Linked DNA regions of Homo sapiens. The protein of the gene in region 1 purifies or fractionates together with the protein of each later gene. This does not show direct contact. Each region holds a gene or a part of one and is shown on either strand. Other genes may lie near its edges. The genes, in order: QTRT1, APBB2, HPCAL1, APBB1 and HSPD1.

The links.
Region 2: the proteins of QTRT1 (region 1) and APBB2 purify together in Homo sapiens (affinity purification with mass spectrometry; 3 studies listed by BioGRID and IntAct, with this or other methods). This does not show direct contact.
Region 3: the proteins of QTRT1 (region 1) and HPCAL1 purify together in Homo sapiens (affinity purification with mass spectrometry; one large-scale study listed by BioGRID and IntAct). This does not show direct contact.
Region 4: the proteins of QTRT1 (region 1) and APBB1 purify together in Homo sapiens (affinity purification with mass spectrometry; 3 studies listed by BioGRID and IntAct, with this or other methods). This does not show direct contact.
Region 5: the proteins of QTRT1 (region 1) and HSPD1 purify together in Homo sapiens (affinity purification with mass spectrometry; 3 studies listed by BioGRID and IntAct, with this or other methods). This does not show direct contact.

What each region holds. Positions count from the first base shown.
Region 1 is NC_000019.10:10,707,719-10,713,691, reverse strand, and holds the end of QTRT1 (queuine tRNA-ribosyltransferase catalytic subunit 1), read right to left. Parts: intron 1,532-5,973; coding exon 1,393-1,531; intron 1,140-1,392; coding exon 1,064-1,139; intron 935-1,063; coding exon 825-934; intron 740-824; coding exon 652-739; intron 575-651; coding exon 422-574; 3' UTR 327-421; downstream 1-326.
Region 2 is NC_000004.12:41,011,207-41,017,179, forward strand, and holds part of APBB2 (amyloid beta precursor protein binding family B member 2), read right to left. Parts: intron 3,193-5,973; coding exon 2,377-3,192; intron 1-2,376. UniProt on the Homo sapiens protein: Plays a role in the maintenance of lens transparency, and may also play a role in muscle cell strength. Involved in hippocampal neurite branching and neuromuscular junction formation, as a result plays a role in spatial memory functioning.
Region 3 is NC_000002.12:10,420,273-10,426,245, reverse strand, and holds part of HPCAL1 (hippocalcin-like protein 1), read right to left. Parts: intron 3,264-5,973; coding exon 3,158-3,263; intron 1,722-3,157; coding exon of another isoform or gene 1,633-1,721; exon of another isoform or gene 1-1,632. UniProt on the Homo sapiens protein: May be involved in the calcium-dependent regulation of rhodopsin phosphorylation.
Region 4 is NC_000011.10:6,395,067-6,401,039, forward strand, and holds the end of APBB1 (amyloid beta precursor protein binding family B member 1), read right to left. Parts: coding exon 5,923-5,973; intron 1,150-5,922; coding exon 1,034-1,149; intron 897-1,033; coding exon 720-896; intron 636-719; coding exon 468-635; 3' UTR 59-467; downstream 1-58. UniProt on the Homo sapiens protein: Transcription coregulator that can have both coactivator and corepressor functions. Adapter protein that forms a transcriptionally active complex with the gamma-secretase-derived amyloid precursor protein (APP) intracellular domain.
Region 5 is NC_000002.12:197,488,978-197,494,279, reverse strand, and holds part of HSPD1 (60 kDa heat shock protein, mitochondrial), read left to right. Parts: intron 1-29; coding exon 30-123; intron 124-787; coding exon 788-956; intron 957-3,983; coding exon 3,984-4,083; intron 4,084-5,032; coding exon 5,033-5,278; intron 5,279-5,302. UniProt on the Homo sapiens protein: Chaperonin implicated in mitochondrial protein import and macromolecular assembly. Together with Hsp10, facilitates the correct folding of imported proteins.

The DNA.
Region 1 (5,973 bases):
CAAGATACCATTTCTTTGATGGTGATGACCTTGGGCAAGTTCCCTCCCTTCCCTGGGCCTGCTTCCTCAGCTGTAAAAAAGGAGAGGCCAACAGTACCTCCCTCCAAGGTGGCTGGGGGGCCTGGGCCCCAGGAAGCAGGTGGCAGCTCCCGCTCTAGGGGCACGCCCTACATGCTGGGCACTGGCAGGTGGTTTCCAGCTATCCGCTGCTGCCACAGTGACGTGTTATGATTGGTGAGAAGGGGAGATATTCCACTGCAATGACGCTCAGACTGGGAGGGGGACCCAGACAGGCCACTTCCTCAAGAAGACACAGACACACTCTGTAAGTTACAATAAAAAAAACCTTTCAAAAAGGAATCCTTCAGTATCTTCCAGCCCCTCCCTCCCTTCCTTCCTCCCTCCCTCTCCCAATGCCAGGTCAGCCCAGTGTGATTCCCACAGAGGCCAGAGCGTCAGTGGCCCAGGTGGGACAGAGGGTGGGATCCCCGTACATGGCGCCCATGAAGTCCCGCACGAAGTCCGGGAAGCGCTTCTCCACGATGCTGGTGCGGACGGCGCTCATGAGCTGCAGCTGCGGGGAGGGGAGGTCAGCGTGGGGCATACGCACCTAGGACACCCCCGCCCACCTTGCCCCGGGCACTGGCTCACCTGGTAGGCGATGTTGTGGACCGTGAGGTGGTGCAGCGCGGCCGTGTTGTCACTGTGCAGCAGTGCGTGCAGGAAGGCGCGGCTGTGCCTGTAGAGCGGCAGGGGACAGCTCAGCACGGCCAGGCCCTGTCCCCTCCATGCCCTGCCCCAGCTCCCAGTGCCATCCTGCCTACTTTTGGCACGTGGGGCAGGTGCACTCCGGGTCTATGGGGCCGAAGTCCTTCTCAAACACCTTCTTCCTCAACTGCAGGTTCCCAGTGGGCACCAGGGCAGAGCCAAAGCGCTGTGGGAGAGGAAGGGCAGGGAAAGGGGCGTCACCCAGGGCTTCATTCTCCCCACCCCCCACCCCTAACCTTGCCTCCCTAGTCCCCCACCCGTCTCCCGCCCTGACCTCCTTCTGCCAGAGCCTCACCGCTGTCCGTGTGGGGAAGACGCAGTCGAACATGTCACATCCAAGAGCCACGCAGACTACCAGATCAGTGGCATAGCTGGGGTTGCAGCCATGACGGGAGGGGGCAGAGAACCTCAGGGGCTTCCCAGGGCCCCTCCCAACCCTCACACTGCCCCAGACTGGGCCATATTCCCTCAGAATGGCCCCCAAGGGACAGCCATGTCTTCCTAGTCTCCTCAGATCAGACCTGTGTCCGTTTCCCCCAAATGCCACCTCCCCAAGCAGGGTAGGGGGTCCCCAGGAATCCACTTCCCACAGGTAGGGCTCTGGCTTCCCTATCCACAACATACCCAACCCCCATCAGATATCGGGGCTTGTCCTTCGGCAGCCGAGAGGTGCTCAGCGCCACCATCCGCCAGAACTGCGACTTGCTCTCACCCCCGCTCAGGCCCCCGATGGCGAAGCCAGGCACGTCTCGCTTGGTCATCTCTGAGGGTACAGGGTAAGGTGAGGGCCACAGAAGAGGAAATGCGCCTGGTCTTCAATCCCAGAACACACCCTGCCCAGACTTCCAGAGTCGCTCAGGGAGAGAGTCAGAGAAACAGACAGAGACAGACAGACAGAGCCAGAGACGGAGAGGGAGACGGAGAGGGAGACAGAGGAGAGGGTCCATCAGTTTGTCTGTCTGTCTAGGGGCTGGGACTACTGCTGATCTCAGCTAACATTTATTGAGTGCCTGCTGTATGCAAGACCTTTTCCTTCAGTACTCAGAAGAGGCACAGCCCACAGTCCCTTAGCTGAAACTGTTGGAACCAGATGTGTTTCAGAATTCAGAGTTTTCCAGATGTGAGAACAGTAAACATCCCACATGCTGAGTAACAGCTGTCATGTTAGGCGCAGTGGCTCACGCCTGTCATCCCAGCACTGTGGGAGGCCGAGGCAAGCAGATCACTTGAAGTCTGGTGTTGAAGAACAATCTGGCCAACATGGTGAAACCCTGTCTCTACTAAAAATATGAAAAGTAGCCAGGCGTGGTGGTGCACGCCTTTGGTCCCAGCTACACAGGAGGCTGAGGCAGGAGAATCGCTTGAACCTGGGAGGCAGAGGTTGTAGTGAGCCAAGATCACACCACTGCACTCCAGCCTGGGTGACAAAGTGAGACTCCATCTCAAAAAAAAGGGCCGGGCGCGGTGACTCATGCCTTCAATCCCAGCACTTTGGGAGGCCAAGGCAGGCAGATTACGAGGTCAGGAGTTCGAAAGCAGGCTAACCAACGTGGTTAAATCCTGTCTCTACTAAAAAATACAAAAATTAGCCAGGTGTGGTGATGGGCACCCGCAGTCCCAGCTACACAGGAGGCTGAGGCAGAAGAATCGCTTGAACCCGGGAGGTGGAGGTTGCAGTGAGCCGAGATCAGATGACTGCACTCCAGCCTGGGCGACAGAGCGAGACTCCGTCTCACAAAACAAAACGAAACAACAACAACAACAAAACACCCAATAGCCTGTCATCAAACACTGTAATATTTGTACAACAAAATATGTTAAGACTTGGTGGAGGAAAGGGGAGTGAGAGCATTAGGACAAATACATAACGCATGCGGGGCTTAAAACCTAGATGACGGGCTGATGTGTGCAGAAACCACCATGGCACATTCATAGCTGTGTAACAAACTTGCACGTTCTGCACATGTATCCCAGAACTTAATTTTTTTTTTTTTTTTTTTGAGATGGAGTTTTGCTCTTGTCATCCAGGCTGGAGTGCAATGGCACCATCTTGGCTCACTGCAACCCTCGCCTCCCGGGTTCAAGTGATTCTCCTGCCTCAGCCCCCCGAGTAGCTGGGACTACAGTCGCCCACCACCATGCCCGGCTAATTTTTTGTATTTTTAATAGAGACAGGGTTCCGCCATGTTGGGCAGGCTGGTCTTGAACTCCTGACCTCAGGTAATCCGCCCACTGCAGCCTCCCAAAGTGCCAGGATTACAGGCATGAGCCACCACGCCCGGCCAAAGTAAAATTTAAAAAATAAAAATAGGCTGGGCACATGGCTCACGCCTGTAATCCCAGCACTTTGGGAGGCCAAGGCAGGTGGATCACGAGGTCAGGAGTTCGAGACCAGCCTGGCCAACATGGTGAAACCCCATCCCTACTAAAAATACAAAAATTGGCCAGGCGTGGTGGCTGGTGCCTGTAATCCCAGCTACTCGGGAGGCTGAAGCAGGAGAATCGCTTGAAACCAGAAGGCAGAGGTTGCAGTGAGCCGAGATGGTGCCACTGCACTCCAGCCTGGACAACAAGAGCAAAACTCCATCTCAAAAAAATAAAAAATAAATAAAAATAAAAATATGTGAATACTTGTAACAACTGGGATAAAAAATGAGAGATCTAAGTTAGCCATGAAATGAGTTGCAAATTTTTCAGGGCATTCTAAGTTTTTTCTCTTTTCTTTTCTTCTTTTTTTTTGAGACAGGGTCTCACTGTGTTACCCAGACTGCAGTACAGTGATGTCATCATAGCTCACTGCAGCCACCAACCCCTGGGCTCAAGCGATCCTCCCACCTCAGCCTCCCAAGTATCTAGGATCACAGGCACACACTCCCATGCTTGCGTGCTAATTTTCTTTTTTTCTTTTTTTTTGAGACAGATTCTTGCTCTGTCGCCCAGGCTGGAGTGCAGTGGTGTGATCTCAGCTCACTGTAACCTCCACCTCCCGGGTTCAAATGATTCTCCTGCCTCAGCCTCCCGAGTAGCTAAGATTACAGGTGCCCACCACCATGCCTGGCTAATTTTTTTTTTTTTGAGATGGAGTCTCACTTTGTTGCCCAGGCTGGAGTGCAGTGGCACAATCTCGGCTCACTGCAAGCTCTGTCTCCCAGGTTCACGCCATTCTCCTGCCTCGGCCTCCCGAGTAGCTGAGACTACAGGCGCCCGCCACCACGCCCAGCTAATTTTTTCTATTTTTTAGTAGAGATGGGGTTTCACCGTGTTAGCCAGGTTGGTCTCGATCTCCCGACCTCAATGATTTGCCCGCCTCAGCCTCCCAAAGTGCTGGGATTACAGGCGCGAGCCACCACGCCCGGCCTAATTTTTGTATTTTTAGTAGAAACGGGGTTTTACCATGTTGGCCAGGCTGGTCTCGAACTCCTGACCACGTGATCTGCCCGCCTTGGCCTCACAAAGTACTGGGATTACAGGCGTGAGCCAGCGTGCCTGGCCCAATTCTCTTTTTTTAGAGATGGGATCTCACTATGTCACCCAGACTGGTCTCAAGCAATCCTCTTGCCTTGGCCTCCTAAAGTGCTGGGATTCAGGTGTGAGCTATGGTACCCGGCCAATGTTCTGGATTTTAGACTTTCGCTCTGAGGACCTGGATGACACAGAAGGGGCTGCAGAATTGTGCTATTGTTCAACTTGCCTGAAACAAGAGGAAATTGAGGCTTGCAGAGCTTAAACCACTAGTCCAAGGCTACATATGCCAAAGGCTGGATTCAAACCTGGGTCTGGCCTCCAAGTCCAGGCTTATCTTGTGCCCCAGCTGCCCAGTTCAACCCGAAGAGGCCATGCCATCAAGAACGCAGGTGTTGGCCAGGTGCAGTGGCTCAAGCCTGTAATCCCAGCACTCTGGAGGCCAAGGTGGGGGTGGATCACGAGGTCAGGAGTTCAAGACCAGCCTAGCCAACATGGTGAAACCCTGTCCCTACTAAAAATACAAAAATTAGCCAGGCATGGTGGTGCATGCCTGTAATCTCAGCTACTCAGGAGGCTGAGGCAGGAGAATCACTTGAAACCGGAAGGTGGAGGTTGCAGTGACCTGAGATCACGCCACTGCACTCCAGCCTGGGCAACAAGAGCGAAACTCCGTCTCAAAAAAAAAAAAAAAGAAAAAAAAAAAAAGGAATGCAGGCGTTGTCTGGGGCCAGGTTTTGAAGGTAATGTGAGCATCCTCCAACTGGACACAGGGTGTTTACATGCAGATTCCTAGGCCTTCCCTAGCTCCAACTCTGGTCGGATCATGGGAAGGGGAGCTGCATTTTACCAGGACTTTCAGTAGTTTGTGCTGGGGCAGGTAAGCCTCAGAGCACTTTGAGAAGCACCCCATGGGGCGGTGCTTGTCAAACTGCAGGTGGTTGAGAAATGACTTTGATGACGCACGGGTTGTTGTCGTTGTTTTTAAATGAAAGAGAAAAGAAAACACCAGAAAGCATTGCATGTAAAAGGTAATGCATGGCTGGACACACCGGCGTGCACCTATATTCCAAGCACTTTGGAAAGCTGAAGCAGGACTGCTTGATCCCAGGAGTTTGAGGCTGCAGTGAGCTTTGACCTAGCCACTGCACTCCAGGAGGAGCAACAGAGTAAGACCGTGTCTCAAAAATAAATAAAGAGGCCAGGTACGGTGGCTCACGCCTGTAATCCCAGCACTTTGGGAGGCCGAGGCAGGCAGATCACAAGGTCAGGAGTTTGAAACCAGCCTGGCCAAAATGGTGAAACCCTGTCTCTACTAAAAATACAAAAATTAGCCGGGCCTGGTGGCGGGTGCCTGTAGTCCCAGCTACTCAGGAGGCTGAGGCAGGAGAATAGATTGAACCCGGGAGGCGGAGGTTGCAGGGAGGCAGAGGTTGCAGTGAGCCGAGATCGCGCCACAGCACTCCAGCCTGGGCGACAGTGCAAGACTCCACCCTCCAAAAAAAAAAAAAGTAAAATAAATAAATACATAAATAGGCTGGGCGCGGTGGCTCATGACTATAATCCCAGCACTTTGGGAGGCCAAGGGGGGTGGATCACCTGAGACTCCGTCTCAAAAAAAAAAACAAAAACAAACAAACAAAAAACCTAGAAGATCATTAACTACTGGAATCATGGCCATTCTCTCAATACATTCTACTGCACGTGGCCCGAGAGCCTTTGCTCCGGCTATTTTTTCTAGCG
Region 2 (5,973 bases), on another chromosome or scaffold:
GTCTCGCTCTGTTGCCCAGGCTGGAGTGCAGTGGCACAATCTCGGTTCACTGCAACCTCTGTCTCCCAGGTTCAAGCAATTCTTCTGCCTCAGCCTCCCGAGTAGCTGGGACTACAGGCACGCACCACCACACCAAGCTAATTTTTGTACTTTTAGTAGAGACAGGGTTTCACGATATTGGTCAGGCTGGCCTTGAACTCCTGACCTGGTGATCCACTGCGCCTGGCCTAATTTTTATTTTTTGAGATGGAGTCTCGCCTGTCACCCAGGCTAGAGTGCAGTGGCGGGATCTTGGCTCACTGCAACTTCCGCCTCATAGGTTCAAGCAATTCTTGTGCCTCAGCCTCCCAGGTAGCTGGGACTACAGCCACCCGCCACCATGCCTGGCTAATTTTTAATGTTTTAGTAGAGAAGGGGTTTCACCATGTTGCCCAGGCTGGTCTCAAATTCCTGAGCTCAGGCCATCTCTCCACCTTGGCCTTCCAAAGTGCTGGGATTACAGGCGTGAGCCATCATGCCGGTCTTAAAATTTATTATTAATATGCGGATCTATGACTCAAACATTTTCTGAGAGGAAATAAAAACATAAGGTAATGGTCATCACTGGGAAAGGGGGCTGGGGTGAAGGGAAGAGGCAGCTTAATTATTCATTTAAAAATACATTTATGTTTTTTGAAACAGAGTCTCGCTCGATCACCCAGGCTACAGGGCAATGGCATAATCATGGTTAACTGCAGCCTCGAACTCCTGGTGTCAAGTGATCCTCCTGCCTCAGCCTCCTGAGTAGCTGGAACTACAGGCACATGCCACCGTCCACCATGCCCAACTAATTTTTTTGGAGGAGGAGAGATGGGGTCTTACTGGTCTTGAACTTGTGGGCTCAGGTGATCCTCTTGCCTCAGCCTCCCAAAGTGCTGGGATTACAGGCATGAGCCACTGTGCCTGAACAAAACTTTAGGTTAGTTTAAAACTTAACTACAACAGAACCGGCTATACCAGGAAGAGCAGCAGAAAGGGTGCCATGACCAGAGGGAGACAGCAAGGTGTCAGTAAACGCCAAACACAGGAAGTAGAGCTTGGCTGAAAGATGTGCAAGGAGTCTTTCATGTATTAATAGATTCAAACTCCAGCAGGTGACAATGTCTATCAGCTTCAGGATATGAATTCTCTAAATGGGTAAAAAGGATAGAGAGCTGTGAACTCAGGGACATTACTGAACATAATTATGATTCCAATAATGTGCAGGGCCAGACAGTTATGAGATGAAATGGCCTCATCTCAACCTCCCTACTGCCACATTCCACAGTAGTATGCATCATTGAAAGTACTGGGATTTTTAAAGGGCACTTCAAAAACGCTACTTTTTTTTTCTTCTTAAACAAGTTAATGTCTTAACTCCTCTTTTCCTTATCTTTAGTCCTTGTAATTTATCTACCTTATCGATTGTAAAAATGTGATTTCCTTCCCTGGTGGTTCTATCTATTTTCTTTGTTATATCTATATTAACACAGCCCTGGGACCCACTAGGGGAACTGCTGGACTACTTTTAAAAAATTAGCCTTTCTGAGTGCTTGTTTACGCTGAATTCAGATACAATAAGGTTCTCCACATTTTTCAATCTTAGAATCAGTATAGTGGGAGCTATAAGAAAATGATATTTAAAGTAGCTGACTTTTAGGATCCTGTTCATTTCTGTCACCATTTTAACACCTCCGACAAATCCAAAATATTACAAATATAGACAAAAGTCCAGAAAGACTGGTCTCAATTAGACTAGTTAAAAGTCTAAACTTCTGAATATATTTTTCAAGAAATACGATTTTCCCACTTTTAAATATTACTTAAGGCTAATAAAACACTCCTCAGTAAATGTCAAAAAGAGAAATGCCTTTAATGAACAGATGGCTAATGTTTTAACTTTTTATGCGCTTCACCATAAATAAGTTATTTTGAGGACTTTAAAATAGTTCTCTTAATTGGGTTATATCCTTCCCCCAACAACTTTGTTTCTTTTATTATTTTGCTTACCAAAACCCAGTATTTCTAGATAGCATATAGAAATGATCTACCTATGCACTGGAAGTGTAATTTCTAAATATATGATATTTTACTGTACTTAACACCAAGGATCTGTTTATTTTACAAAAATGCTTCCCAGAACAAACAACTTTATGCACGATCCAAAATGAAACTGACCTAAAATATGGTTGAGGAATGCAGTAATATTTTGCAAATAAATTGCCCAATTTTACCGCAAGAGGCTCACGTTCCTCTCTGCATAATGGACATTTTTGGTCAGTCTAGAGATTTACTCCAATAGTTGAAAAGATAAAAAAAAAAAAGTGCCAGCTGAGGCTACGCCTTCCCCAGGGGTACCTGTTTCATCCGGGGAGCTGGGTGAGGCACTGTCTTGGGACAACGTTGTCCAGCTGGACTCCTCATCGCTCGGTGCCAGGTTCTGGATCCGGTGCAGTGCACAGTCGGTTTTGGCCCCTGTTTTCGGATGATCCTTCTTGGTTTCTGGGCTGGATGACACTGTGGCTACTTGGCCGTCTTCAGGGCTGGACTGGGGTCTGTTTGGTTTCTGCAGCAGCAAATCGCCATTCCCAATGATGGTGGAGGCCTGGCCCTGGACTGGCTGGGATTTCTCTTCCGCAGTCCCATGGTGATTGCCTCGGTTCTGCTCTAGTTCTCTGGCTGAGGTTTCCAGATCTGCATAGTAATTTAGGAAGCTCTTAGTTCTCCTGGGCTGGGAGGGTAAAATCTCACAGCTCGAGGAATCCTGTGGGTGGGGCTCTTTACCCTCTAACTTCTCAGAAGTTATGTTGATGACTGCAGTGGGGCTCAGGTTTTTGTTGGGGTCCTGCTGCCCTTGCTCTGCAGCCTTACGGAGCTGGTTCTCCCCATTTTTCACCAGCTTGATGTTGGCAGAGCCATTTCCCAGCAGGGGCTGTGCAGCTGGATCCGAGAGGCCCATGGCCGCCTGGATGTTAGTTAGTGCATATTTTTTCCTGCATTTGGGAGGTGTGCTGTTCTTGGTTTCTGTGTGTTTTATTTCAGCGTTCAACAGTTCATTGTGGGAGGATCGGAGGTTAAGGGTGTTTGGTGGTGTGGCTGGGCTGTTCCGATTTGTGACGTCTGTAGTTCCGCTGCTGGCCATAAACACTGCCAAGGTGTCAACACCTGAGTCAGCTGGGGAAAAAAAAAGTCATTAGACACCTGCCATGATTAAACTACTTAGTATACAGTGTGAGTAAATATTTTTATATAGAAAACTAAAAGAAGAAATGCTTCCACTGCACATACATTCTCATAGAATGGACCCATTTTCCTCTTTATTTCACCATTTGTTCCTATATTAAACAGGAGCAAATAAAGGGCTTAACGTGGATAACCAAAAGCCAATTTATAGAAAAGCTAAGAAGTCTGAGGACCTAAATTTTACTTAAAATAAAAAAGCATTTCTCTTTGAATTCACATAAAAGCATTTTCTTCTGGTGGCTGGTCTTCATTTTTTACAAGCTTGAAAAATCATCCCCTTTCCAAATATTCCCACTACATTTTTATTCTTTGGTTCCTTCAGGCAACAACAAAAAATTGCTCAAGATTCCTCTGGGGCTTCAGCTTTCTTAATTAACCTGAAAGGTCATTGTTCAATGATGCTCCATACATCCAAGGTAATTTTTCTCAACCACGTTTAGAAACTGTGTTCTGAATGCCTGGAAAACTAACCCTCCATTAGAGTTTGCTAATGTCTTGGTGAACATTTTTGACCTGGGCTTACTGTTTGTACTAAACTGAAATTTTGAAGAAATGGCTTAATTTCTGAAGAACACGTACACACGCACACAAAACTATTACTGTAGCATTGAGCCCTTGGCTACAGACAACATGTTAGAGCTCCCAGAGGAGTCTGAATATATTCCACTGAATTAAAATACAGACTCAGCTGTTTGCAGTCATCACATGCCTCTGCAGAACTCCTAGGAAACTATCTGGCAACCGCATTTATCTCAAATATTGTTTGCGCCGTTAGTGATTTATTCTATATGTCTCTCGCTGGGAAGAAAGAAAGGTTTCTTAGACTAGAAGGGAATAAAATTCATCAGCAAGAATTCCTAAGGTTTCAGATTTCTCAATCTATGAGGAGTGACTTCTTTCTTATCTGATCCTTTTGCCCTCCACAGAGACTTTGGTGATCTCTACCTCAGCAGCAGATGAACCAAAGCACAGCTCCTGAAATTCCTGAAATTATATTCTGACAATTCCCTCTTCCTCCCCCAGGCAAAACAGGGATCTTTGCAGGAGAGAAGGGCAATAATTTCCTTGTTTGGGAGCTTAGAGGTATCTCTCCATCACCAAATACTTAGGTTGGGCAATTTTAGAAAAAAGTTGCTCATTCTAGAGTCCCTATGCTTCCAGGAAGCAAGGCAACATCAATCCTCCACTCTAGGCCATGGCCATTTTTATAACAGTATGACCATGTGGCCCATAAGAGAGTCAAGGGCTGTAACCCCAAGGGTTAGGATCTTGGGCCCCATTCTTTAAAGTTATTATTTATCGGGATTCCTTCTCACCTAGCACCTCACCTTAGCTCTTAGGCCTCATTTTACAGAAACAGAGAATGTAGTGTGGTTTTTCCTTTTTCAAAATTTCCTTTTCCTCCACCCAGTCCAATGGAAGGTTTCTGCCTTTTAAACAATACTCTTGACAATTAAATTAAAAAAAAACAATTTTTATTACCATTTGGCTACAACTATTATACCATTTTATGGGAAACATGTTTCAATTTATAATTTAATTTCACTCAAGAGTGGCATTTCATATGAGAAGGGCCTACCTGAAACCTACATGAAGTTTTCCCTGAGACACATATCCAGAGCATAGATACATGAGAGAAAGTTATTTTTAGACTCTTGGGTATTTAGAGTGAGATTATGAGAAAGTGCAAATCTGCTGTTCCTAAAAGGCATGGCAAAACATTTATATTAGGCTGCTTTATGATGCTAGGTACTATTATACATTCTAGCAATGTTATTAGGGAGATATTTTTATTTGCTTTGTTTATAATCATACATATTTTCAGAAAGAATACCATCAGAATTTCTAGGTGATTTTTAATATATAAATAACTTTTATATCCTCAATATGACAGATTAAGACTTCTAGCCACAGCCGGGTGCGGTGGCTCACGCCTGTAATCCCAGCACTTTGGGAGGCTGAGGCGGGCAGATCACCTGAGGTCGGGAGTTTGAGACCAGCCTGACCAACATGGAGAAACCCTGTCTCTACTAAAAATACAAAATTAGCCAGGCATGGTGGCGCATGCCGGTACTCAGGAGGCTGAGGCAGGAGAATCGCTTGAACTCGGGAGGTAGAGGTTGCAGTGAGACGAGATCGCCCCATTGCACTCCAGCCTGGGCAACAAGAGCAAAACTCTGTCTCAAAAAACAAAAAAGAAAAAAAAAGACTTCTAGCCATATTTTCACAGTCTTTGGGATCCCATTACCCTATCAGGGGCCATGTAACTCTTCTGCTTGCTAGAAATAATGGAGGGCAGGCAGGAGGGGTAAGAGGCTGAATAGAAAAGGACCATCCAATACAAACTGGATGAAAAAATGCAGCTCTGTATATGCCATATTTATTAGTTTATTTACGTACTTATTACTTTTGAGACAGGGTTGGTTATTTATTTATCATTACTTTTGAGACAGGGTCTTGCTCTGTCACCCAGGCTGGAGTACAAGTGGCAGGAGCATGCCTCACTGCAGCCTCAACCTCCTAGGCTCAAGCGATCTTCCTACCTCAGCCTCCTAAGTAGCTGAGACCACAGGCGTATACACCACACCTGGCTAATTTTTTGACTTTTTGTAGAGGCAGGGGTCTCACTTTGTTGCCCAGGTTGGTCTCAAATTCCTGGGTTCAAGTAATCCTCCTACCTCAGCCTCCCAAAGTACTGGGATTACAGGCGTG
Region 3 (5,973 bases), on another chromosome or scaffold:
TTGGCCCCATGCGGTGAGAGGAAAACCTAGAAAAAGATTGGTCGTGCTAAGGAATCAGCTGCCCCCTCATCCTCCGCATCCAATGCTGGTGACAACATATTCCCTCTCCCAGGACACAGACTCGGTGACTCCACACTGGGCTGAGTGGCCTCTGGAGGCTCGTGGCCTAGGGCAGGGCTCCGTAAGGCTGATCGGCTGAGCTGGGTGGGGTGAGGTTTTCTGACCCTCCGCTCCCCATCCCATAACCGCTGTCAATGAGCTCACACTGTGGTCACTATAGCCCTGGCTCTGCTAGTCCACAAGCAGGATAGGCTGTAAGGATTCTGCCCGTTCAGACATGGCCTCAAGGGCAGGAGGCGGTCCCTCTGGCTCCAGCTGGTGGGGAAGGATGAGGTTTGAGGTTGGCTGCGTCCTGGCGGCCTGGTCCTGGGGCAGCCCCTCCATGTGTCTGTTTGAGGCTCTGTGCTGTCAGCTGGAATCACTAGGGCACCCTGCAAAATGTCTGTGCAGGCAACACAGACGCATGCAGCCAGGCCCAGCACAGGGGAAGGCATGCAGGAGGGGCTCTCGGCTCTGGCGCATGGCAAGCCACCAACGTTTCCAGGTCTCAGGATCTTCGTCTCGAAGGTGGGATAATGGGAACACCCATCTCAAAGGCACCTGGGAGGATGCATTTGAGGACTCAGACCAGCACCAGGACGGAGGATGCCCCTGCACAGTAGGGCCCTGCTGGGAATTCAGCCCCTCCAGCCCACTGGCAGGCAGGGACACCTGTCCTCATGGGACTCTGGCCCAGGCTTGGGCAGGCTGGCTTCTTCCAGGGCACGAACTTGATGCCTCTGGGGCCTGGGCAGCCTGCTGGCCCCAAGAGAGCCCAAACAATGCCCGGGCTAAGGGGTGGGTAGGGAGAGGGAGGGACAGCCAGGCCCTCAGCAGACAGTCCCCAGGAACCTCTGCCAATGGAGAGAGTGGCTCCCCACCCTCCACCTCTGACCACTCAGGGCAGCCAGCTGTGTGGTCATCTCCTTGGCTAGGTGTGGGGCCTCAGAGTCCACGGCCCCAGCCTCCCCACTTCCAGTTCCTGACCCCAGGCCCTCCTGTCTCAGGCCGAGAGAGAGCAGGCCAGCCCAGATGGACCTCCAGTCAGGAGAACCAGAGCTGCCCCAGGACGACTCTGAGGGCTGCTGAGATGCTGGGAGCTTCCGAAGGTTCCACTGGCTCCTCCTGATGGAGGGCAGGGCAGGCGAGGGGGTTGCTGAGCACAGCCTGTCCCACATGTGCGGCCTGACAAGCTGAGGAGAGGGTGGCTTTAATGATACTTGTGTCCTGGAGAAACCCATCAGCCCAGCCTAGAGGCCTGGAGCAGCCAGGCACCTTCCAGGGTGGCCAGGGAAGTTGGGGCAAACTCCAGGGCACCATCACTCCTGAGCAGTCCCCGGAGGAGCTTTGAGGGCCGAGGACCACTCCCTGAACTGACTCTGGCCCCTGGCTGCAGCCCCACCTTCCTGGTATCACTCTTCCCTCCTTGCCCCAAGCTCCAGGGACAGGCGGGTCCCCTGGGCTCACAGGAGGAAGTGCTCCATCCCAGCAGGCACATTAGCAACGACCATGCCATCCAAATTCCCAACCAACCTAGAAGATGCCCTCTGAAGAGGTGGGCAGGGCCAAGCCAGGAGGCAGATTCGGGCAGCGAGTGACCATGGGTGGCTTCCCCAGGGACACTGTGAAGTTGGGAACAACAGCCATTATTTGTGGAGTGCAAGCCCTGCTAAAAGCTTTAAGGCATCATCTCGCTGAAACCTCACAACCCCATGGGACCGGATTCACCATCCCCACGAGGAGCGGACAGCCTCAGGAGAGCGGCAGCAGGTGCCCTGCTAGGCTGGAGGGTGGAACACACATTTCCCATCAGCCCAAAGGCAACGCCAGGCACCAGGCAGCCTTGTTTTCTGTGTGTGTGTGTTTTGAAACTGTGACCTGGCTGCCTGGAATGCTCTTTGCTGCTTACAGCTCCCCCACATCCCGTCTCCCGCTGGGGCCATGCTTAACTCACCCGAGGGCTGCACTCCAGACTTCGCAGAGCAGCTTCTTGGGCATTAGCTTATCGTTTAATCCCCAGCACAACCCAGGGAGTATTTCCTCTTTATTTTTTTGAGATGGAGTCTCACTCTATCGCCCAGGCTGGAGTGCAGTGGTGCGATCTCGGCTCACTGCAAGCTCTGCCTCCCGGGTTCACACCATTCTCCTGCCTCAGCCTCCCGAGTAGCTGGGACTACAGGCGCCCGCCACCACGCCTGGCTAATTTTTTTGTATTTTTAGCAGAGACGGGGTTTCACCGTGTTAGCCAGGATGGTCTCGATCTCCTGACCTCGTGATCTGCCCACCTCGGCCTCCCAAAGTGCTGGGATTACAGGCGTGAGCCACTGCGCCCAGCCTGTATTTTCTCTTCTTAAGGTCGTGTTTCTTTATTGCTCAAAAGCAAAGCAAACCTGGTGCTGTGGCTGCTCTTGACAAAGCCGGCAAGAAGAGCAGAATGGGAGGGCCGCACAGCCGCCCTCACCTCACAGCCAATGCAGAGGAGGGCACTCGAGGCACAGCCCTGTCACCACTGCTGCCACCCACCATCGTGAGACTTGCACTTCTGCAGTGGGGCTGAGTCTCCACAGAGCTGCTGTAGGTGGACAAGGTGGCAGCGTACATCCTGACAGTTCCCCTTGGACACTGGGGCCATCTGGGCAGCTTCTTCTCTCAGGATGGCAGCAAGAGAGGCATGGCCAGCACCCCAGGACCCCAACATCTGGGATCCTTTGATCTCAACCCCTCCAGGTTCAGGGCCACCAGCATGCTTGCCTCCCTGCCCCTAAACATTGTACCCACGGGAATATGGGTATGCCCGATTCTATAAGTGGGGAGACAGTGGCTCAGAGAGGCCACAACATGCCCAGCATCACAAAGCTGCACAGAGGAGCCAGGATACAGCACGGGTGTCCCTGACTGCATCCCGCTCTTCCCTGGGCATGGCAGGCGCCAGGCAGGTGGCGGGCGGGGGTGGCCCTCAGGAGACCAAGAAGCTGCAGAGGGGAGGGGGTGCCCCAAACCACATGGTTTTGCCCCTACCGTGGCGTACACATGCAGCCCCGCCCCCACCCCGCACTACCGTCATTGTTGGTGTCCATCTGCCTGAAGATCTTGTCTGTGCGCTTCTCCGGGGTGGACTCATCCTCCGGCATCTTCATCACAGACGACACCATCTTGTAGATGGCCTGCGGATGGGGGCAATGACACTGTGCTCAGAGGCCCGGGGGCTTGGGCGGGTGCAGCAAGGGTGGGCTTCCGCCCAGCCCACAACAAGGCTCGGAGAGGTCAGGGGCTCCCGGTGGCCTTCGGGACCCTTCCCCAGTGGGGAGAATGTTCCCTAGTGAACCTCACGGGTGTCTATGTGAAGTTCAAGAGCAGAGCTGGCAGAAGGGTTCTACTGGGAGGGTGGTGAGGGTGCTGGTATCTCTGCCTGGGGGTGGGTAGTGCCAGGAAGGTGCCTAAGTGTCCCTGTCGGGGGCTGGGAATGCTGAGGGAGAGTGGTGGTCACAGATGTGTGAAATTCCCCACACTGCCTGCTGAGCTGTGTGCATTTTACTCCATGGCTGTTACCCCTCAGTTTAAAAGAGACTGAGTCCCTGAAACTCACAGGGCAAGCCCCATCACCAGCCCCGACAGGACAGGAAGCAGCAGCACTGGGGTCTCCATGGCCTGTTTAGGGCACTGTCAGCCGAGGGCTCAGTCTAGCCACTGGTCTCTCTGCGTGTCTCTGCCTGAGTGGCCCAGCCTGGGGCATGTGACTCTGTGCTGCTGGTGGGTGTACAGAGGAGACGGTGATGGGACTGGTGAGTGGCCACTGAGCAGAGTGACATGCGTGGGGAGTGGTGGCACTGCTGTGGGATTTTCTGAGCACTCCACGTGAAGGTGGCTTGATATTCTCATTCCTGACAACAGACCATTTTCTCATTGTGAGAAAGAGGTAGCAACCAAGTGTCCCATGAGAAACACCACCCAGCCGGCCAGGGAGCCATCGATGGCGTCGGGGGAAGGCTTTCAGGGTTTGGGGACTTGGTTTGGGGGCTGTCCCGTTTGGACAGAAGTGGCTGCTCCTCACTGCTTGGAACAGTTCTACCAGTGCCTTGATGTTCTGACCAAGCCTCTGCACGGCCAGTGACAGGCACACCTATTTGCAAAGGGTAAGGGTTAACACACAGGACAGGACGGGTGATTCCTGGGGAATAGAATTCTTACTTCCGCCACTGCATGAAGCTAAGAGCCAGAAAGTGACGACAGTACCAGAGTTCCCCGAGCCCATGTTAATTTACTCTGACAGTGTGAAAACCATCTACGTGGGAAATGGGTCGCTCATTCCTGAGGCGGGCCACTGCTGCTGCAGAAGTTCACGGATTTGATACCCGCTACTGGAGGCCCACCCCTGAAGTTCCCTACCATGGGACCACCCCTTCTGAAGAGTTCCATTTTTTTCTTATTTTGCTTTTGGTCTTTTTGGAGGCAGGGTCTCACTCTGTCACCCAGGCTGGAATGCAGCAGTGCAATCACAGCTCACTGTCACCTTGAACTCCTGGGCTCAAGCAATCCTCCCATCTCAGCCTCCCAAGTAGCTGGGACTACAGGTGCATGCCACTATGCCCTGCTACTCTTTTAATTTTTTATAGAGATGGAGTCTCACTATATTGCCCAGGCTGGTCTCAAACTCCCGGGCTCACGCGATCCTCCAGCCTCGGCCACCCAAAGTGTTGGGATTACAGGCCTGGCCATGAGTTCTAGAATTGGATGCTCCTGGGCTCAGGGAGGCACTCAGGGGAATGCCAGGGAGGGGCAGCTCTGCTCTCTACTCTCTCTCGCATACCTAGGCACCTGGCCAAGTGAACAAAACTTGGTTTCCTTCTGAAACATGGCCTTTCTGCTAGAGCTGTTGATAGGCATGAAGGTGAAGAGATGCCTCCTAAAGTGACGTCTTTCCCGTGCTGAGCTGATTCTCGTGATCGTTAATGCTTCAGTTTTACTTGATGACTGCGCATTCCTGGGGACATCACAAGCTATCTGTTGAGTTCTCAAATCCAGGGCTTTCCCCAGGTCTTGGCAGGTACCTCTTGCAAGTGCCAAGGAGCCCAGCAATCATACAATTCTTGGCCAGGCACGGTGGCCCATGCCTGTAATCCTAGCACTTTGGGAGGCTGAAGGCAGATCAACTGAGGTGAGGAGTTTAAGACTAGCCTGGCCAACATGGTGAAACCTCGTCTCTACTAAAAATACAAAAATTAGCTGGCTGCGGTGGCACATACCTGTAATCCCAGCTACATGGGAGGCTGAGACAGGAGAATCTCTTGAACCCAGGAGGTGGAGGTTGCAGTGAGCCGAGATCATGCCACTGCACTCCAGCCTGGGCGACAAAGTGAGACTCCATCTCCAAATATATATAAAATATAATTTTTAGAAATTCATCTATTTGAGTCTCAGACTTTGTAAAATGCAGAGAATGACCCACGTTGTTGGGTTATGAAGATGAAAACGGATCAAAGTGCTCCACCCGGCCCTGATGTATAGCAAGTGATCAATAAACATTGGCTTTTACCATTGCCCTTTGCAAGGGTCTGCCCAATCAGGTGACAACTGCTCACTTTCCAAAGTGCACCAGGTAGCAACCTGGCCAAGAAAGACCCAATGTCGAGTGAACATAAAGAACACAGGGAGGCCAGGCACGGTGGCTCACACCTGTCATTCTAGCACTCTGGGAGGCTGAGGCGGGCAGATCGCTTGAGCCTAGGAGTTCAAGACCAGCCTGGATAATGTGGCAAAACCCTCTCTCTACCATCAAAAATACCAAAAAAATTAACAGGGCATGGAGGTGCTCAAGAGGCTGAAGCGGAAAAATCACCTGAGCCCAGGAGGCAGAGGTTGCAGTGAGCTGAGATA
Region 4 (5,973 bases), on another chromosome or scaffold:
ATAACTGAGGCACAGGCTAATGGGTTGATGGTGTGGTACAGGCATAAGAAGGCACACAGCAGTGCAGACAGACTTTATTAGTGATATCAATACAGCAGAGGTGCCCATGGAGCAGGGGGAAGGGACCCATGCCTGGACCAGTCCCTTCCTCCTTCTGCCCCTGCTGGGTCCAGGAGGATGAGGCCTGGCCTGGACCAGTTCCTCCTGTTCCACCTGAAACACATGGGGATGGAGAACCAGGGCTGGCCTTGCTTCCTGCTCCTCTTGTTACCACTCCAGTGTTATCACTTCCTTGAAGGGATTAGATCTCTCCCTCCCCAGCTCCTAGGCAGGGAACCGTAGCTACTGGGGAGGGGCATATTTGGGAGGCCTGAGGCCTAGGAATAGCCTCTAGACCCCTCCCTGACCCACACCCTTTAGTTCCCTGGGGCCCAACACAAGCAGGTGGAGGGAAGGTGGGGGCTTCTTCATGGGGTATGGGCCCCCAGCCGTTTGGGCTTCAGGGAGCCCCACAGCGACTGAACACCCCTGCGGACAGTCCACCCTACACGCCGTGCCACAGACTCAGCAGGGGGTGCTGGGAGGCAGGAGGTGGAGGCCTGGGAACGGGCATCCAGACACTTCTGGTAGCGAAGCTGCGGAGGCAAGCAGGGCAGTCACTCCCCAGCCTACCTCCCATGGGGCCACGCCACCACCACACCACCCTACTAGTAGCTTACCATGCACGCAGCCTGCACAGCCTCTGAGAGGCTGGCAGCATTGGGCTCGCACCAGAACATGTGGCAGCAGAAGGAGGCTGGGCCGGCAGCCATGATGAATGCAAACGTGTGGACATCTCTGCCCACGGCCAGGAAGGAGAGGAAACGCACCCGACACTCTCCCAGCACTGCCTCTGTCTGCATGGAGGGAACTCAGTTAAAAAGGAACACCAACCCCACACTGTGTTCCACATCCATCTTAGCAGCTCTTCCCCTCACCCCCAGTCTCCCCTCTATGGCAAGGCGCAGCCACGACTTCTACCCCAGCTCTTTACCTGCTGGTGCAAGATGGTGAGGGTAGCAGGGGCCACACTGACATGACTTGGGGTCCATTGTTCACGGCTGCTGGAGGACAGGACTGACTCGAGGGCCCCATTAATCACATCTACCCCTAGAACATATGGACACAAGATACCACTGAGGGTAGACAGAGGATACCCCAGCTCTACCCTGGACCTCTAGTTCCACCCAATCAAACCCAGGGCCTTTGCCCCATCCCCACTTTGCCAGCCTACATTTTGGACAACGCTGTCCAAGTATCCCTTCCCTGGGGCTCTCCTCCCCTGGCTTCAGTAACTGGACATTTTCCTACTTTTTAAAATCTTGGATCCTAGGCTCGTTATTTTCACCGGCTCTGCCTATTCCTCCACACTTCTGAACTGACTGACCTCTCAAAGTTCTGATTTCCCCAAATCATGCTCTCTCAGCGCTCATCACACTCAGACATCACATTGCTTCACACCACAATAACTCCCAAATCAGACCCTACAGGCCAGTCCTCTCCCAAGACCCAATTATTTTTTAAGATATCTATCTGAGGAGTGATTACTCTGTATCACATTGTGCTAAGTCATTACAGTGTATTACCTCATTTGTGCCCACACAACAACATCACAATAGATTACTTTATTTCCATTTTACAAATAAGGAAACGGAAGAGATAGGTAATATGCCTTAGGTCACATCGAGGAATGGGGACCTGAGCTCAGGCAGTCTGATTCCAGAGCCTGGGTTCTTAGCCATGCCTTTCTCCTACCTCTTCTCTATATTACTAGTTTTCAGAACTAGAAGGGCTTTCAAGATCTTAGTTCTACTCAAGAATGTCTATAATGTGCTCAAGAGCCAAGGAACCCAAGGTTCCTGACTTTCAGATCAATCAACTTTCCCTTATAACACATGGCCTCCTCCACCTCAAACTGCTGTTAAACATTTCCCCTCATGGATCCCACTTTTGCTTGCACTCAGCAGAGCACCAAGGCAGGAGCACATGTTGTGGCAAAGGCATCAGTTCTAGTCCCCACACTCATACGCTGGCTGTGTGATCTACTGTCTCTGCACAATGCCAGTGCAAAAGGCACATGCCTCTGTGGTCCACTCCCAGGCCCTCTGCCCCTTTTAGTGGCTCTCAGCTCCCACTAGGAGCAGACCACGTGGACTCTTTTGGGCAGAGGACAAATGTCTTCCTTGCATGTCTTCTCCCATCTTGGCCTTGCTCATCTGACTTCTAGCTGGATCAAGGCCAAACTGCTCCCAAAAGCATACAAGTCTTCCAAAAACTGGCCTCACCAGAGCTGTCAAGCTTCATATTTTACTGCTCCCTGAGCTTCAGATGATTTGTGTAGCATTATTATTAACAACTAATCTTGGCAAATGGCCTGTAAAGCAGATGGGGAATACAAAGCAAGAGAAGAGAATGCCCTTGAGAGACACAGACTGCAACTGAGGGAAAAGCCTCTGTCTTGAGTGCCCTTTCCCTGCTGGACTGAGAAACTTCAGACTGTCATCCTTCAGGGCTCCAACTAGGTGCTGTCTAGGAAGCCATGCCTGCTGCAGGGCAGGGAGAGGACAACTCTGAGACAACTCTTACCATAACGTCTTGTAACTGCTGGAAAACTTTTTTCCACACTGGGCCGTGGCCATCTCAAGAACAGAAATGGAATTTAATTCATCCCTCTGTCCCCAATTCTAACACAGGGCTTATCTGCTGAAGAAATTCCAGATGCATGAGCAAGTCACTCTCAAGGCAACAAGGGCAAATGCACCCGAACTGGTAAAACCAAGTGTCACAGAAGTGGATGGGCCAGGTCAGATTGCAGAGTGCTTCAAAAGCCAGGCAGAGGGGTGTGATGTTTATGACATTTAGGCCAGGGCAATTGGAAATCTCAAAGTTCAGGTGTGTGAAAGGGACATCATAGTCAAACTGCTGAATAGATGGGGCTGTGGGAGATGGAGCCTGGCCTCAGAGTCTTGGGAAGTTTGGCAGGGAAGCAGTGAAAGCAGTGGACCAAGGTATGGAAAAAGGCTGTCAGATTTGATAACTCAGGACTAAAACCTACACTGTGACCTTGACCTCCAGCCCCACATGCAATCCCCCTAATCCTGCTGTGCTTTTCTCTTCTTTTTTTTTTGTATCAGTTGTTGCCTTCTAACATACTCCATGGTTTACTCATTTTATTGTCTGTCTCTCCTTGCTAGAATGTCAGCTAAATAAAAGCAGGGATCTTTGTCAGTTTTGTTGATTAATGCATGCCAAGAAGCTAGAATAGTGCCTGACATGTATCAGGCATTCATTACCACTTGTTAAATAAATGAATAATTAATGAATGAATATTGCAGCTTCTGGATGGGCTAATGTTTAAAAACGAGCATAAGATAAAGCAGGAAGTAAGTTTAGAGACCACTTGTCCAAGCGGAGCAGTCAAGGGTCACAGGCAGTTGATCTGGCATAGGGAGGACCAGAGTCAAGTGGTAGATGGAAAGAAGCACATATGGGAATGGGGGTAACAAATGGAAGAGCCAACAAGGGTTTAGAAGTTGAGGACGAGAAGGAGGAAAGCAAAGGCGTAAGGGTCAGCATGCTTTTCTCACCTCCAGCTCCAAGTCTTTGGCAGTGCCATCGAATCCAAATGAAATACCCACTCCACTCTGCAAATCCAAACCTTCTTTCAAAACCTCAGTTCAATCCCCACCTTTTCTAAGAAGGGTCCCCTCTTTCAATGTAAGATTTTGGACGTGAAAGTCAGCACGGTATAAGGGAAAGTGCAGAGAATTAAAGATGACCGGGGTTTGACTCCCAGGTCTAGCTTTCCTGGCCATGTAATCTGAAGCAAGTCTCATTTATTCATTAATTCATTTTTTATTTCATTCATCAAACATTTGTTGAGTTCTTCCTGTGTGTCTTTTGACATGATACCCTACCACTTCTTTTTCAAGTAGCCTCTTTTCTTCTTCCTGCCTCTCTCCAGTTGTCACTATCCTTGGCAGTTTCATCCTCTACACATCCATTGAATGTTGGAGGGCCTCAAGGCTATGACTAGCTTCATTTCCCTTCTCACTTCAGGATGCCCACTTTCCAGGGCCAAGCTACTCTACATCCATGGCTTTGATTACCTCTACAACCCAATAATGCCAAAACTCCTATCTCCAGCCCAGACCTCTCCTCTCAGCTCCAGATCTGTGAATCTAACTGCCAACCTGACTTTGCCTCTCAGATTCCCCAAAGGCATCTCAAACTCAGCATGTCCAAAAGTGAGCTCACAATCTCTACGCTCAAATTGGCCTCTTCAAGCATCTGCCACCTTGAAAGAAATAATCCACTATCCAGAAGGTCCAACAGCCAGGAACTTAGGAGTCATCCTTGTCCCTCACCCACATCGAACCAATCACTGAGGCCTGTTGACTATACCCGTCTAAACAGCTCTTGAATCCACGCACTCTTCTTCAGCTCCATTGTTGCCCAAGATACTCTCATTACTGGCCAGGACTACAGCAAGAGCCTCCTAACTGAGCTGCTCACATCCACCTCCACCCACTTAACAGTCCCCTCCATGAAATAGCCAAAGTGAGCTTTCAAAATTCAAATCTGATTAAGGCAAGTGCACTCTCGGAGACTTCAATAACTCCTTGCTGCCCTTAGGATGAAGAAAAAATCATTAACATAGCCCCTGAGGTCCCTGACCTGGCAGCCTGACCACTGCCCAGCTGTCGGCCTCATCTTGCATTGGCCTTCTTTCAGTACCTTGGAAATGCCAAAGTGCCTCCCACTGTAGACCCTGATCTTCCCCCATCCCACCCCCACCTCCATTCCACTTGACCGCATTCACTTCTACTTATTTTTTGGATTTCAGTTCAAATGTCACTTTCACAGGGAAGTCTTTTACAACCTCAGACTAGATGAAATTCCTTTGTTATATCTTGCTACTTTCTCTCAACGAATAACTCACACATTTATTTGTGTGATTATTTTATTAATTCCTGGTTTTTTTCTACCATAACCTTCTATAACCTCTAGGAAAATGGGACTGTGGCCACTGTTCTCCCTGTGCCTAGTCCAGGGCCTGCCACATGGTAAGCTTCAAAGGTATTTGTTAAGTGAATAAACAAATAAATAGCAGACACTAGGAAAGCACTGAAATATAAGAGTTAACCAGATCAGGCCAGGCACAGTGGCTCACGCCTGTAATCCCGGCACTCTCAGAGGCCGAGGCAGGTGGATCACTTGAGGTCAGGAGTTCAAGACCAGCCCTGGCCAACACAGTGAAACCCCGTCTCCACTAAACATACAAAAATTAACCAGGCGTGGTGGCGGGAGCCTGTAATCCCAGCTATTCAGGAGGCTAAGGCAGGAGAATTGCTTGAACCCAGGAGGCGGAGGTTGCAGTGAGCTAAGATCACGCCACCGCACTCCAGCCTGGCGGACAGAGCGAGACTTGTCTTTAAAAAAAAAAAAAAAAAAATTCTTTGCAACAATGAAGTATGTGACAATTATGCTCACTGTTTCCTTCTCCAGATGCTCCCAGCCCACAGCTGGTGCTGTAACACTAAACCCAGCTACAGGCTGCTGTCTGGTGTCCTCCAGTCATCTAACATCAGCCTCCCAATCCCACCAAAGCTTTTCCATGGGATGAAGGAGTGGGGTCTCCCTTTGTGCCTGGTTCAGCACCACTCACGTGGCTGATGCTCAGCGAAGGCGTGCTGACTGCTGCTATAGGCAGGACAGGAAATAGAGCTAGGACAGAAGTATGGGGAGGTGGGATGCATTTTAAAGGGTAGGGAGACACCAAGCATGAGGAAGGTCTGGTAGAAGAAGTATTGGAAGGCAGAGGGTAGGGGCAGAGTTTTAGGATCAAGGTAGCAGCCCCTGGGTATAGAAGGACACACATACCAACAGGTTTAGCAACAGGTACATTCCCCAGGTAATAGACTTGGAACTTCT
Region 5 (5,302 bases), on another chromosome or scaffold:
CATATACCTAATTCTTTGACTTTTCATAGGATGGAAAAACACTGAATGATGAATTAGAAATTATTGAAGGCATGAAGTTTGATCGAGGCTATATTTCTCCATACTTTATTAATACATCAAAAGGTAAGAACAAATCAATAACTGAATTATTATTATTTTTATTATTTTAGACAGAGTCTCATTCTCTGTTGCCCCGGCTGGAGTGCAGTGGCATGATGTGGTGGCGCGTTGCTCACTGCAACCTCCGCCTTCCGGGTTCAAGTGATTCTCTTGCCTCAGTCTCCCAAGTAGCTGGGATTACAGTCACACGCCACCATGCCAGGCTGATTTTTGTATTTTTAGTAGAGATGGGGTTTCACCATGTTGGCCAGGCTGGTCTCTTAACTCCTGACCTCAGGTGATCCACCCACCTTGGCCTCCCAAAGTGCTGGGATTATAGGTATGAGGCTCTGTGCCTGGCCAATTTTTGAATTTTTTAATAGAGACAAGGTTTAGCCATGTTGGCCAGGCTGGTTTTGAATTCCTGGCCTCAAGTCATCTGCCTGCTTTGGCCTCCTGAAGTTTTTAAAATATACTTTCTAATATGTGTCAAACTATAGGTATTAGTTGGTGTCATCCTCTAAAAAATAAATGTATATATTCCAAAAGTTAATGCATATGAGAAATGAAGGAGGAAAACCAACTCACTGGTGAATTTTAAAGTGTATTGGAACCTTGGTTTCGCTTTTCATTTAAATGTATTGCAGTCATTTTTTGTATATTTTTGAAATCTTCATTATTTTTACAGGTCAGAAATGTGAATTCCAGGATGCCTATGTTCTGTTGAGTGAAAAGAAAATTTCTAGTATCCAGTCCATTGTACCTGCTCTTGAAATTGCCAATGCTCACCGTAAGCCTTTGGTCATAATCGCTGAAGATGTTGATGGAGAAGCTCTAAGTACACTCGTCTTGAATAGGTAATAAGCAGTGGTATTTGTTGATTTATATTTCTCGGTGAAAGACAGAATTATTTGTATTGCTGTTTGCAGTTTCCATCATGTGTACCTCCACATTTGATCCAGTTGGGTTTGTATCTAGAATTGTAATTGTGTAAATCAGGTGTGCTCTAATGTATCCTTATGGTTGTGTTTTTGAAGGAACCCCAAAGTCTTTACTATTTTGATCAGCTTTCTCATAGAATAGACTAATTTAGCACATGGGTACCTTTCTGTATTTTGCAAGTGTTTACAGTTGTTTTGAAGGCACATGACTGAATCTTGTATTTTTTTTTTTTGAGACAGAGTCTCACTCCCTGGCCCAGGCTGGAGTGCAGTGGCATAATCTTGGCTCACTGCAATCTCCATCTCCTAGGTTCAAACAGTTCTGCCTCAGCCTCCCAAGCAGCTGGGACTACAGGTGCGTGCCACCACACCTGACTAATTTTTGTATTTTTAGTAGAGACAGGGTTTCACCATATTGGCCAGGCTGGTCTCAAACTCCTGACCTCGTGATCCGCCCGCCTCAGCCTCCCAAAGTGCTGGGATTACAGGTGTGAGCCACTGCGCCCGGCCTTGTAATTTTTTTATTTTTTATTTTTATTTTTGGAGACAGAGTCTCTGTCACCCAGGCTGGAGTGCAGTAGTGCAGTGGCTCAATCTCAGCTCAAGCCTCCGGGGTTCAAGTGTCAATCTTGTTTTTTGTTTTGTTTTGTTTTGTTTTTTTAAGGTTTTTCTGGTTAAAAATATGTAAATTTTCAGAATATTATTTTGCATAGAACAGGGAAGTAAACAACTAACTTCCAAATAACTCAGAGCCAGGCATGGTGGCTCACAGCTATAATCCCAGCACTTGGGGAGGCACAGGCGGGTGGATCACCTGAGATCAGGAGTTCCAGACCAGCCTGGCCAACATAGTGAAACCCCGTCTCTACTAAAAATATAAAAATTAGCAGAGCATGGTGGCGTGTGCCTGTAATCCCAGCTACTCAGAGGCTGAGGCAGGAGAATCACTTGAATCTGGGAGGCGGAAGTTGCAGTGATCCGAGATTGTGCTGCTGCACCCCAGCCTGGGCAACAAAGCGAGACTCTGTCTCTAAATAAATAACTCAGATGTAAGTGTATTTCACCATCGAATATTTTTATTTATTTTGAGAGACAGACTCTGTCACCCAGGCTGGCCTGCGGCGGCACGATCATAGCTCACTGCAGCCTTGAACTCTTGGGGTCAAGCAATCCTCCTGCCTCAGCCTCCCAAGTAGCTGGGACTACACACTTGCACAAGCACACTTGGCTGATCTTTTAATTTTTTTGTAGAGACGAGGTCTCAATATGTTGCCTCAATATGTTGCCTAGGCTAGTCTTAAACTGTTGGTGAATCTTAAGTGATTCTCCCACCTCAGCCTCCCAAAGTGCTGGGATTACAGGCATGAGCCACTACCCTTGGCTGTGATCAAGTATTTAGTCTGTTGTTAAATGTTTACTAAATAGTCTGAAGTAGAGAAAATAGCACCCAATCTAAAATAAGGTGAGGTCTAGTCACTTATTTAAATCTACATTTTAAGCTATAGTTTACTATTAGTTTAAACTTTAAGACAGGTAATGTTCATGCTGCAGACAATCTAAGGGCATTATTAAAATGTTTGTTCTTCCTTATCTCAGAATTGAAGTATGTCAGAAGCAAGACTTTTCTTTCCATTTTGTTATAGTAGAAATGCATACATTAACAGGTACGTTTTAGACATTACACGTGCTCATCTGACCCAAAAGCTCTAATGAGCTGCCTTACCCTGGAATGTTTTTCTTAGCTTGGATTTGCTTTTTTGGAGGGATTAAGAAAAGACTTGGCTGGGCGTGGTGACTCATGCCTGTAATCCCAGCAGTTTGGGAAGCCGAGGCGGGTGGATCATGAGGTCAGGAGATGGAGACCATCCTGGCTAATACGGTGAAACCCCGTCTCTACTAAAAATACAAAAAATTAGCTGGGCGTGGTGGCGGGCTGAGGCAGGAGAATGGCGTAAACCCAGGAGGCGGAGGTTGCAGTGAGCCGAGATCTCGCCACTGCACTCCAGCCTGGGCGACAGAGCAAGACTCTGTCTCAAAAAAAAAAAAAAACACACAAAAAAAAGACTTGAGGCCAGAAAAAAACAAGCCTACAGAGTTTTCATTAAGCCATTTTACTGCTAGTTGAAAAGTGGGATATCCAGTTTACATAGCATATAGCTTATTCCTCTGATTTTTATTTGGGTCCTTAATAAAATAGACCAGCTGTCTTGAAGTTTGAACGTTGCTTCTGTTTCACAATCTGCTCTCAAATGGACATTTGATTACACATTCCAAGTATTCATTTACCTGGTAAAAATTTCAGGTGAGCTTAACAATACTGTCAGCTTTTTGTATAACATTTATAAAAGAAGTGAATTCAGAACATTGCTCATTCAAAACTCAGCATTAATATATGGAGATGTTTATTAAATGACCCTCAAATGTAATATTTAGTAATTACTGTTTTTCTACCATTCATAATAGTTATCACTGTATCCTATAACTTACTGTGATGTGATTTTTGCTGCTCGGCCTCCTGAGTAGTGGGGATTACAGGTGCCTGCTACCACATTTGGCTGATTTTTGTTATTTTCAGTAGAGACAGGGTTTCACCATCTTGGCCAGGCTGGTCTCGAACTCCTGACCTCGTGATCCACCTGCCTGGGCCTTGCAAAGTGCCGGGATTACAGGCCTGAGTCACCACGCCCGGCCAGGCCAACAGTTTATTAAGAAGGTAAACGGATATGGACAAGTATAATTAATAGAAAATAGCCTAAACTGTCTCAGATACTTCCTGTCTTAATTTGATCAAAAATTGCTAGGAAGCAAAAAAAAAACAAAAAAACACAAAAACCAAACCAGATTACTTAGGGAGTCCTAAGTAATCTAGTAACAGCTTGAGGGGAATTAAACAGATAGGCATTTTTATTTCATTTAAATCTTACTATCAACTATTCTTAACAGGCTAAAGGTTGGTCTTCAGGTTGTGGCAGTCAAGGCTCCAGGGTTTGGTGACAATAGAAAGAACCAGCTTAAAGATATGGCTATTGCTACTGGTGGTGCAGTAAGTAAAATAAATGTGATAATGGTTTGCTGAATGTTTATACTTGTCTGGAATTTATAGATAGTTTAACATTTCACAATTAGATACTACAACTATCTGTTTCTTTTGGCTCTTTGGAAGGTAGGGGTTGGATTAAATTCCCGTTAATTTGCCACAAGTCTGGCCTAAGAATGAGCTTACTGACTATTCTATATTGACTAAATCTTATTGACTGAATAAGGGGGTTTCCTTTTTTTTGTTTTTTTTGGAGACAGTGTCTTGATCTGTCTTGACTATTCTTGACTTGATCTATATTGACTATTCTTATTGACTTAAATCTGTGGGGTTTCTTTTTTTTTTTGAGACAGGGTGTCTTGATCTGTCACCCAGGCTGGAATGCAGTGGCACGATCTTGGCTTACTGCAACCTCCACCTTCTGGGTTCAAGCAATCCTCCCGTCTCAGCCTCCCAAGTAGCTGGGACTACAGGTGCAGTACCATGCCCAGCTAATTTTTTTACTTTTAGTAATGACGGGTCTCACTGTATTGCCTAGGCTTCTCAAACTTCTGGACTCAAGCAATATGCCTGCCTCCGCCTCCCAAAGTCCTGGGATTACAGGCATGAGCTACCGAGCTCAGTTTTGAAAGGTAGAAGTGTATGCTACAAGGGATGTAGGACTTGAGAGTCAAGGCCTATGGTCTTGTCCTGGCTCTACCAGTAAGTGTGACCTTCGATGTTTTTTTCTCAAGTAAGGCTGGTAATAATTACCACAGTTGTGAGAATTGAGAATTTGGAAATGCAGTGAAAGAGACTATACTCAAGTCTTGTTCTGGACTAACAGTGATCTTAAAATCTCTCATTTCAAAGAAATAAAGTATTTTGATGATTCTCTTGCATGGTGTATTAATAAACTTGGTATAATGGCAGAAACTGTAACCTACAACAGGTTTACGTTTAACTCTTTTTGTAGGTGTTTGGAGAAGAGGGATTGACCCTGAATCTTGAAGACGTTCAGCCTCATGACTTAGGAAAAGTTGGAGAGGTCATTGTGACCAAAGACGATGCCATGCTCTTAAAAGGAAAAGGTGACAAGGCTCAAATTGAAAAACGTATTCAAGAAATCATTGAGCAGTTAGATGTCACAACTAGTGAATATGAAAAGGAAAAACTGAATGAACGGCTTGCAAAACTTTCAGATGGAGTGGCTGTGCTGAAGGTAACATTCATTATTATGAATAAG